Linked DNA regions of Homo sapiens. The protein of the gene in region 1 interacts with the protein of each later gene in a biochemical or structural test. Each region holds a gene or a part of one and is shown in the gene's direction. Other genes may lie near its edges.

Region 1 (3,500 bases):
GCATTGTTTTTATTGTTTCTAGTAGTATTGAAAGATAAAGAACAGGGAGAGAGACACATGTCTGTAGACAGCTTCTGGATTATTTCCCAAATCATCTTTTAGTTGGGATTTTTTTATTTTACATTGTGGAATCAATTACTGGTAACCTTTGACATACCTTGGTTTGAACCCTGAGTCTGCTGCTTACTACCCCATGTGACCTTGGGCAAGTTCCTGGCTGAACTTGATAAATCTCTGTTTCTTCACCTGTAAAAACAGGAATAATAAAAGCTACCTCCCACTCCCAAGTGCTGTCATAAAATTAAATATGTTCTATTTAAAGTGCTCTATATTCCCTGTGTACATGGTACACAATGAAGAGCTATTTAATTTACATCTGAGTGGGAAAGGGAGCATGGGAAAGCAGTTGACATCATTGAATGCATGTTAGATGTCAGGCGTGGCATCTTATTTAACCCTGATTGTAAGCCCATGTGATGGGGGAGGGTATTATAGCCCCCTTACAAATAAGAAAATAAAGGCCCAGGTATTAATTATGAGGCTTGTTCTGAGTTACCCCTGCTAGTAAGAGATACAGCAGGAATTCCCAATCCTGCCCCAGTAAAGTTTGTATTCTCCGTTCTGTGATTTCTACTACATCATTAAGGCTTCATCAAAGCTACTCTTTCCTTTTAACCACTTTGCCACCTTTGAAAATGTCTTAGCATATATTTTCATATTGTTATTTTAGCTATTGATTTTATGCTTATTCACACATGTCAATATCCTCACTATTTTTTTACACAGGCATATCTTTTAAAATACATTTTGCTCCTCAGGAGTGTATTACCTAGTTAAGAATAACTGGCCGGGCGCGGTGACTCACACCTGTAATCCCAGCACTTTGGGAGGCCGAGGCGGGCGGATCACGAGGTCAGGAGATCGAGACCATCCTGGCTAATACGGTGAAGCCCTGTCTGTACTGAAAATACAAAAAAATTAGCCAGGCATGGTGGCGGGTGCCTGTAGTCCCAGCTACTTAGGAGGCTGAGGCAGGAGAATGGCATGAACCCAGGAGGCAGAGTTCGCAATGAGCCGAGATCGCACCACTGCACTCCAGCCTGGGCGACAGAGCAAGGCTCCGTTTCAAAAAAAAAAAAAAAAAAGAATAACCAGGGCATGTGGGTGTCGCAGTCTCTTTTTTGCTGCAACAAAATGCCTGAGACTGGGTAATTTGTAAGCAGTAAAAATATATTTCTCACAATTTTGGAGGCTGGAAAGTCCAAGATCAAGGCGCTGGCAAGTTCAGTGTCTAGTGAGGGCCCAGTCTCTGCTTCCACAACTGTGCCTTGTTTTTGCATCCTCCAGAAGGAATGAATGCTGTGTCCTCATATGGTGAAAGAACAAGAAAGGGGCCAGCTAGTTCCCTTAAGCTCTCTCCTAAAGCACTAATCTATCCCTGGGGCCTCTGCCCTCAAGGCCTGATCACCTCCTAAAGGCCCTATCTCTTAACACTGTTGCTTTGGGGATTAATTTCAGTATGATTTTTTTGGAGGAGACAAAAACATTCAAACCATGGCAGGGGGCACTCACAGACCTGTTTTGGGTTTCGTTGTGAGTTGGGTATGTGGGCAGGCAGAAGGGCCATGTGAACAGGATGTACCAGGAGGTAGTAACAGCTAGATAGGGGACTGAGGTGCAGTTACTGGATACTTCTGACCGTGTCCCTCACCTGCATCATGCCGAGGTTGAGCATGAATGTCTTCCCACTTAAGGAGATGCCAGAAATAAGTCTGCAGGAACAGTTATTTTTATCTTCCATCACTATCTGAGTCAAAGCACTGCTTAAGGATACAACATACATTTTGTTTTTTAACTTGCGTTCAGGCTTATGTACATAAAAGCGTGATGGAGGAACTGAAGAGAATAATTGACGACAGTGAAATTACCAAAGAGGATGATGCATTGTGGCCTCCTCCTGACCGAGTGGGCCGGCAGGTGTGTTTTATTGATTATCCTGTAGTGCAGAAATCTTACAAATAAGACCCCCCACACTCCCTCCTCCACTTAAAGCTTTTGTTGCCTATCTCACTTACTAACTACTATGGACAAAGCATTGTGGAGATACAAAGAGAAATAGAACATAATTATTTCAACAATCTAATGAAAGGAAAATCATACAAATAATTCAGTGTATGTATTTAAATTCATGTATATTTATATACATTAATGTATATATTCATTCTGAGCACCATTTTGGTAACTAAAAAATAAAAGCCACTGTCATATTGAACTGAATTAACAGAAAAGGTATTTTCACTCTTGACTGCTACCATCCTAATCCAGACTTCTAATAGATTTCCTTGTTTTTCCTCTTGTTCCATACCATCCATTTTTCCATCCTGAAAGCCAGTGTGATTTATTTATTATTTTTTTTTTGAGTTGGAGTCTCGCTCTGTCGCCCAGGCTGGAGTGCAGTGGCATAATCTCAGCTCACTGTAACCTCTGCCTCCTGGGTTCAAGCGATTCTCCTGCCTCAGCCTCCCGAATAGCTGGGATTACAGGCGTCCTCCACCATGCCCAGCTAATTTTTGTATTTGTAGTAGAGATGGCGTTTCACCATGTTGGCCAGGCTAGTCTCAAACTCCTGACCTCAGGTGATCCGCCTGCCTTACCCTCCCAAAGTGCTGTGGTTACAGGCGTAAGCCGCCGCATCCTACTGGTCTGATCTTTAAAAACGTAAATTTGCTTATGTATTCCACTGATTTAAACTCCAATGGCTTCCCACTGTACTTAAAATTCAAACTCCCACCTTATCTTTTACCGGGCTTCCAATCTGTCATGGTGTTCAAACCTTACTAGCTTCATTTCTGTTCCTCAGACATACCTAGGTGGTTCTTACTTCAGGGCCTTTGCACTTGCCACATTCCGCCTAAAATATTCTTCCTTTAACTTTATACAAGACTGTCTCTATTATTGAGGTCTTCAAAAGTCACTTCCTCAGTGATGTCTTGCCTGTCCATCCAATCTAAGAAGTCGCTTCCCATCATTAAGAAAAAGATCTGTTGTGTTGTCTTTTTGTGTTTTTTTTTCTTTTTGCTTTCAGTTTTATCACAATATGTGTTGTCTTTGTAGCACTTGCTATTGTCTAAAATTGTCTTACTTGCTTTTCAGTGTTTTCCACTGCTGTATCTCTAGTGACTAAAATAGTACCCATGTATAGTAAAAGCTCAATAATAATGTATTTGTTAAATTAATATGAAAACCCATATAAACTCATTCCTAATAATCTCAAAATGATGGACCAACCCTTGAAGAGTTTTTTTTAAAAATCCACCCTCAGTACTTACTAAAGTTAACTTTAATTTATGTTCAAGGGAGCTCAGTAATATCATATATATGTATTTTGCTTTACCACTTATAAAATTTTTATTTCTATTAACTCGTTCTACCATCACAACAATTCTGTAAAGAGGGAAGGGCATATTCCTTTGTACCAGCAATAAGCCATTGGATACTGT
Region 2 (3,500 bases), on another chromosome or scaffold:
AGCGGAGCCCCTGGGCTCCCACCCCATTCCCTCCTCCCGGGGCTGCACAGGTGAGTAGGTGGAAGGTAAGGGGGGCAGGGAGGGGAAAGAGGTCCTGGGCTTAAAGCCTGGGCTTGGAGTACTGCTCCTTGACACTCAGGGTCAGGCAGAGAGAAAAGAGACAGCCTTCAAGGCAGTCCATGTCTGGGTGCCCCGGGTCAGGTGGGGAGTGGGGGCCATTTTTCCCTGAGCACAGGCTGGGAGGGAGTGGAGGGATGAGCAGGATGGGATGGGCTGTCCCTCGGGTTTGGTATATTTGCTCCTAGAGCAGCCCAGGAGGCACGGTGGCTCTGAAGCATCACTCACTTCTGTCCCGTTCTTGACAGCGCCATTCGCGAACGATTTCCCAAGTTACTACGCCTGGTAAGTCCATAATTTTTTCATTCTAACAAGCACAGCATCTCTCACTCACAAGGATTCCTGGATAGGTTTCTTTTTCTTTTTCTTTTTCTTTTTTTTTTTTTTATTTGAGACGGAGTTTCACTCGTCGCCCAGGCTGGAGTGCAACAGCATGATTTCAGCTCACCGCAACCTCTGCCTCCCAGGTTCAAGCGATTCTCCTGCCTCAGCCTCCTGAGCCCAAGTAGCTGGGATTACAGGCATGTGCTACCACACCTGGCTAATTTTTGTATTTTTAGTAGAGACAGGGTTTCACCATGTTCGCCAGGCTGGCCTTGAATTCCTGACCTCAGGTGATCCACCTACCTCGGCCTCCCAAAGTGCTGGGATTACAGACGTGAGCCACTCGCACCAGGCCCTTTTTTTTTTTTTTTTTGGATGGAGTCTTGCTCTGTTACCCAGAGTGCAGTGGTGCAATCTTGACTCACTGCACCGTTTGCCTCCTGGGTTCAAGTGATTCTCCTGCCTCAGCCTCCTGAGTAGCTGGGATTACAGGCATGTGCCACAATGCCCGGCTAATTTCTTTGTGTATTTTTAGTAGAGATGGGGGTTTCATCTTGTTGGCCAGGATGGTCTTGAACTCCTGACCTCAACTAATCCATCCACCTTGGCCTCCCAGTGTGCTGGGATTACAGGTGTGAGCCACTGCGCCCAGCCTGGATCCCTGGATACTTTTCATGATGCGTTTACACTTGACTTCTGACCCTTCTCTCTTAGTTCTTCAGTCTACTTATGCACCCAGCCTTTTTCTCTCTGGTTTAAACTGTCAACTTTCTTTTTTGTTTGTTTTGTTTTTTGAGACAGGGTCTGGCTCTGTCATCCAGGCTGGAGTGCAGTGGCACAATCGTAGCTTACTGCAACCTTCGCCTGCCAGGCTCAAGTGATCCTCCCACTTCAGCCTCCCAAGTAGCTAGGACTCCAGGCACGCACCACCATGCCCAGCTAATTTTTGTATTTTTTTTGGTAGAGATGGGTTTTGCCACGTTGTCCAGCCAGGCTGGTCTCAAACTCCTGAGCTCAAGCCATCTGCCTGCCTCGGCCTCCCAAAGTTCTGGGATCACAGGTGTGAGCCACTGGGCCCAGTCTACACTGTCAACTTTTACTTCCTTTCCACAGGATGGCCATGAGCTACCCCCACCAATTGCCTTTGATGTTGAAGCCCCCACGACGTTACCGCCCTGCAAGGTAGGAAGCATGGACAGAGTAAGAACTTGTGTGTGGAGAGAATACTGCTTCCATGTTCCTAATACCTGTTTGATTTCAGGGAAGCTATTTTGGAACAGAAAACTTGAAGAGTCTGGTCTTGCACTTCCTGCAACAGTAAGTATCCCAGGGTCCCCCCTCCCCACCCCGAGGTTGAGGGGGAATGGTGGGCAGACCCAGGCACACATCAATCTTTTTGTTTTGTTTTTTGTTTTGTTTTTTTTTTTTTTTTTGGACAGTGTCTCACTGTGTCACCCAGGCTGGAGTGCAATGGTGTGATCTTGGCTCACTGCAACCTCTGCCTCCCAGGGTTCAAGTGATTCTCCTGCCTCAGCCTCCCCAGTAGCTGGGACTACAGGTGTGTGCCACTGCACCTGGCTAATTTTTGTATTTTTCGTACAGATGGGATTTCACTATGTTGGCCAGGCTGGTCTCCAACTCCTGACCTCATGATCCACCTGCCTCTTCCTCCCAAAGTGTTGGGATTAGAGGCGTGAGCCACCGCACCTAGCCATTTTTTTTGTATTTTTAGTAGAGACAGGGTTTCGCCATGTTGCCCAGGCTGGTCTTGAACTCCTGGGCTCAAGCTATTCACCCATCTCAGCCTCCCAAAGTGCTGGGATTACAGGCATGAGCTTCCATGCCCGGCCACAACTCACTCTTGGGAGCTACTGGGTCCTTGTATGGCTGTAGACCACAGAGCCCATACTTTCTTTTTTGTTTTTCCCATAGGTACTATGCAATTTACGACTCTGGAGACCGACAAGGGCTCCTGGATGCCTACCATGATGGGGCCTGCTGTTCCCTGAGCATTCCTTTCATTCCTCAGAACCCTGCCCGGTTAGTATCACATCCCAGAATCTGCCCGGGACCACTGGGTTTCCCAGCAGATACAGGGCACACCTGCTGGCAGCACTGCTCTGAACACCACGTCCATTCCTTTTATTCCCCCAGAAGCAGCTTAGCCGAGTATTTCAAGGATAGCAGAAATGTGAAGAAGCTTAAAGACCCTAGTAAGTGTGTGATACGAACAAAATATGGGAAAAGGGCATGGGAAGGAATCAGTCAGAACTCAGGAGTGTGTGGCAGCACCACTGAGCTTTCTCCTCTACCCACAGCCTTGCGGTTCCGGCTGCTGAAGCACACGCGTCTCAACGTTGTTGCCTTCCTCAATGAGTTGCCCAAAACCCAGCACGACGTCAATTCCTTCGTGGTAGACATAAGCGCCCAGACAGTAAGCTCCTGCTTGCGCCTGACAGAAGCCTAGAATTGGGGTGGGGGTGGCATTTAATAGGCAAGGGGGGGCACTCAGGCTCTGAGAAGTGTACATTGTACCTGATGCTGCTTCTCTTTCAGAGCACATTGCTGTGTTTTTCTGTCAATGGAGTCTTCAAGGAAGGTAAGAATCTTTAGAGTCCCGAGTTTGTAGCGTGGTCCCACCCCCAGCTGGAATTTTCCTCAGCACTCTTAGCTTCCCAGCTACTTTCTCTCCCATTTTCTTTTTGAGCTCCTTCTCCCATTCTGCCCCCAAGCCGTCTTGGCTTGGCCTACCTCTCCACCTGTCCTGTCTGGATGTGGGAAAAGCCTGGGGATTAGGAGGACTTTGGAGTCAGGCAGTTCTTAGTTTCCATCCTAGTTTTGGTTGTGCGGGGCTGTGGACAAGTAACATTACCTCTAAGACAGATTCTTTATTTGTAAGATGGGGTTAGTAATAGCCGTCTCATAGTGGTGCTATAGGAAGTAAACTGAAGTGACTTACAAAGTGCTTGGCCTGGGGCCTGGCATACAGATGCTATCAGTGGATTAGTAGTTATTACTTTTTTTTGAGATGGAGTCACACTCTATCACCAGGCTGGAGT
Region 3 (3,500 bases), 9.3 Mb from region 1:
GGTAGGAAATTTATGCAAGAACTTCTTCCCATGGGTGAGCTGCATCCAGCCCAGAATCCGAGCCTGGCCCTTGCTCTCCCCAGTCTAATTTCCCAGCTTTGGCTTGTGAAAGTCACCTTCAGTGACTTTGACTCCTGGGTCATCCAGGCACGCCTTCCCCAGGTGTCCTGACATTGGCCCTCCCCTTGGCTGAGCTTGCACTCAAGTCACCCTTTTCCTGCCCCTCCACAGCTGCTGCTGCTTCCTGGCTCTCTCCTTTGAAATGTATTTTTTTTTCCTGAACTATGTTTTTAATGCTGGAAAAGCTTGTCCTTGGGAGTTGGGGATGGAGGGAAAGTGAATTAGGCAGGCTCTTGGGGGCTCCCATCAGTTAGGACTGGAGATATGGGCTGAGACGTACATAAATCCTTTGGGGAAATTCTGGTTGGGCCCTGAAAGAAAAGCAGACCTGTAGCAGTTTAAGGGGCAGTTTCAACCTGGATTCTGCTTCTAAGTTGTTGTATGACCTTGAGTGATATGATACTCTGAGCTCTTTGAGGCTGTATTATCCTTGATTTGTCCTATTTTGAGGCTCAGATGAGACAAATGAAGAACATTTGCCGAGTACCCTGCCATCTGCATGAACTTTGGCAGGTGGAGGAAGGAGTCTTAGAATACAGTGGGGAGCTATGGGAGTAGAGCGCTACCTCCTGCACCCATCTCAGCTGCTGAGGAGCTTGTGGGCCATAGCCTTGGCCCTGCCCCTTCTCTTTGTGCCAGAGTCTGGCCTGAAAATGCCCATTGTCTGGTGGTGCAGCCCGTGTCAGGGTCAGGAGACTGAAGCTATCCCGGCTGTCTCCAGGCAGCACCCCCTGGGGCTGTCTCTGGGCTGGGGATATCCTGGCATGGGTGACTTTTCCTACCAGAATGGGGATGTGGAGAAGGAGGCCGATGTCCCTAGGCTGGTTGCCTCTTTTTGTCCTTCTCATCCTCCCACCAAGGATATGAGGCTACTGCCTAGCAACCTGCTTGGGGCAAGTCCAGATAGAACTCCCTCTGGGATCCTCAGTCCCCAACTCCCTAACATAGATTGCTATGGTGACACTATGATTGACAACAGAGGGGTCCCAAGCATCTGATCCCCGCTATTAGAGTGTGGCTTCCTCTGCTTAGTCTCATCTCCACAGACCAAGGTGCTGGAGAGGGATCCAGTGGGCTGAGCCAGGCTTCTCTCAGTCCCCTTTGTATACTGGGCTGTCTGTCCTTCTCCTTTAGAGATCATTGTGTTTCAGGGCTGTGATCTGGACCCTCTTATTTTTTTCTCATTCAACACTTTCTCCTTGGGCAATTCTCATCTATTCCCATAACTTCAATTACCAGCTGTTAGCTGATGACTCTCAAATCTATGGCTTTTGCTCTAACCTCTATGCTGGGCTTCAGGCTTTTATATCCAACTCTTTCTAGATGCTTCTGCCTGCATAACCTATCAGGTGTCTCTGAATCAACTTGTCTAAGACTGAGCTTATCACCTTCCACCTCCCATTAAAGGTGTTACTGTTCCCCGCTACTCACCCCACAGGTCTCAGTAAATAGCTCCACCGTCTACTTAGTTGTTTAGCCAGTGACCTGAGAGGTGTCTTTATTCTTCTCCTTCCTCATATCCAGTCAGTCATCAAGTCCTGTCTGTTTTGCCTCTTAGCTCTCTCTGAGTTCATTGTCTACTTCTCTTCCTCCCTGCTGCCACCACACTCCTCAAGAGTTGGGATTTGGTGGTAGAGGGTGGAGCGGATGGCAGGGATTGATGCTCTCATGAGCTGTTGCTGCCTTCCAAAGTCTTTTTTTTTTTTTTAAATCAGGGCTTATGAGCCTGTGTTTACTCTTCTGTATCCCACTCTTGTTCAATCACCCCTGACAGACTGTATTAGTTTCCTAGGGCTACCATAACATAGTACCACAAACTAGGTGGCTTTAAAGCCAAACAGAAATTAACTGTCTCACAATTGTGAAGGATAGAAGTCTGAAATCAAGGTGTTGGCAAGGCTGTGCTCCCTCTGAAACCTGTAGGAGACTCCGTCCTTGCCTCTTCCTAGCTCTGTGGTTTGCTGGCGGTCTTCAGTGTTCCCTGGCTTCCAGCTGGATCACTCCACTCTCTACTTTCATCCTCACGTGGCATTCTCCCTGTATGTCTCTGTCTTCACATAGATATCTTCTTATAAGGACACCAGTCATATTGGAGTTCAGGTCCATCCTACTCCAGTATAACCTCATCTGCAATTATCTTATTTCCAAATAAGATCACATTTTGAGGTACTGGGGATTAAGATTTATCAAAAAATGTATCTTTTTGTGGGGACTTAATTTGACCCATGACAGTCTGCCCTCTGGTGCCCCAAACTTCATGTTATCCCCACATGCAAAATATATTCACTTCATCTCAATCTCCCCAAAAGTTGTAACCTAGCTGGATGTGGTGGCTCCACCTGTAATCCCAGCTACTCTGGAGGCTGAGCAGGAGGCTGAGTCTCTTGAGCTCAGGAGTTCGAGACCAGCCTGGGTAACACAGCAAAACCCCATCTCAAAAAAAAAAAAAAAAAAAAAATCTTAACCCATTCCGGAATCAGCTCTCAGTCCAACTGGAGAACACAATTCAACCCATAATGCTGACCTTCTCATACGTCCTTCTCAGAGTTCTTCTGGGGGTCCCTGATCTAAGGTTCTTCCCAACATTGGGAACATCAAATCTGCCATGTAGACCCTGACCCTTTTTTTGCTTAGGATTTGATAAGGGAAGGGGAGCTTTGATGGAAGACAAGGAGATTATGCCTTTCTCTTAAAGCCAGTGTGGGGTTGAGCAGAGAGCTCTGATGGATTTTCTCACCTCATGCCTCTAGGTACGTGAACACACTCCTGAAACTCATCCCGCTGGTGCTGGGTCTGCAGGAACAACTGCGGCAGGCAGTGCAGAATGGGGACATGGAGACCTCCCATGGCATCTGTCGCATCGCTGTGGCCCTGGGCGAGAACCACTCCCGGTAAAGGGTGGAGCAGCTTGGGGTGGGATAGTAGGGCCCTCTAAGAAATGGGGTTCTGGAAGTCCCTGGAAAGGTAGAATGACCTGACTCTCTCCCCAGGGCCTTGCTGGACCAAGTAGAGCACTGGCAGAGTTTCCTGGCACTCGTCAACATGATTATGTTCTGCACAGGCATCCCTGGCCACTATCCTGTCAATGAGACCACCAGCTCCCTAACCCTCACCTTCTGGTACACACTGCAGGTGTGTCTGTGTGACCTCCAGTAGGACTGGGCTGTGGTGGAAGAAGGTGGATCATGGGCTTCTATGACTGCTGGTGAGGTGGCTAATTCTCTTCCCTGGCTCTCTCAGGATGATATTCTATCCTTTGAGGCAGAGAAGCAGGCTGTATACCAGCAGGTGTACCGGCCAGTCTACTTCCAGCTGGTGGATGTGCTTCTGCACAAGGCCCAGTTCCCTTCTGATGAGGAATATGGATTCTGGTCCTCAGA

Evidence for each region.
Region 2: the proteins of MAGOH (region 1) and NXF1 form a complex in vitro, tested with the Homo sapiens proteins (one study listed by BioGRID).
Region 3: the proteins of MAGOH (region 1) and IPO13 form a complex in vitro, tested with the Homo sapiens proteins (2 studies listed by BioGRID and IntAct).

Annotation. Positions count from the first base shown.
Region 1 is NC_000001.11:53,232,019-53,235,518, reverse strand, and holds part of MAGOH (protein mago nashi homolog), read left to right. Parts: intron 1-1,866; coding exon 1,867-1,977; intron 1,978-3,500. UniProt on the Homo sapiens protein: Required for pre-mRNA splicing as component of the spliceosome. Plays a redundant role with MAGOHB as core component of the exon junction complex (EJC) and in the nonsense-mediated decay (NMD) pathway.
Region 2 is NC_000011.10:62,795,441-62,798,940, reverse strand, and holds part of NXF1 (nuclear RNA export factor 1), read left to right. Parts: exon of another isoform or gene 1-365; coding exon 366-402; intron 403-1,554; coding exon 1,555-1,623; intron 1,624-1,702; coding exon 1,703-1,758; intron 1,759-2,373; coding exon 2,374-2,481; intron 2,482-2,595; coding exon 2,596-2,654; intron 2,655-2,759; coding exon 2,760-2,875; intron 2,876-2,997; coding exon 2,998-3,040; intron 3,041-3,500.
Region 3 is NC_000001.11:43,953,450-43,956,949, forward strand, and holds part of IPO13 (importin-13), read left to right. Parts: intron 1-13; exon of another isoform or gene 14-34; intron 35-2,870; coding exon 2,871-3,011; intron 3,012-3,110; coding exon 3,111-3,252; intron 3,253-3,360; coding exon 3,361-3,500. UniProt on the Homo sapiens protein: Functions in nuclear protein import as nuclear transport receptor. Serves as receptor for nuclear localization signals (NLS) in cargo substrates.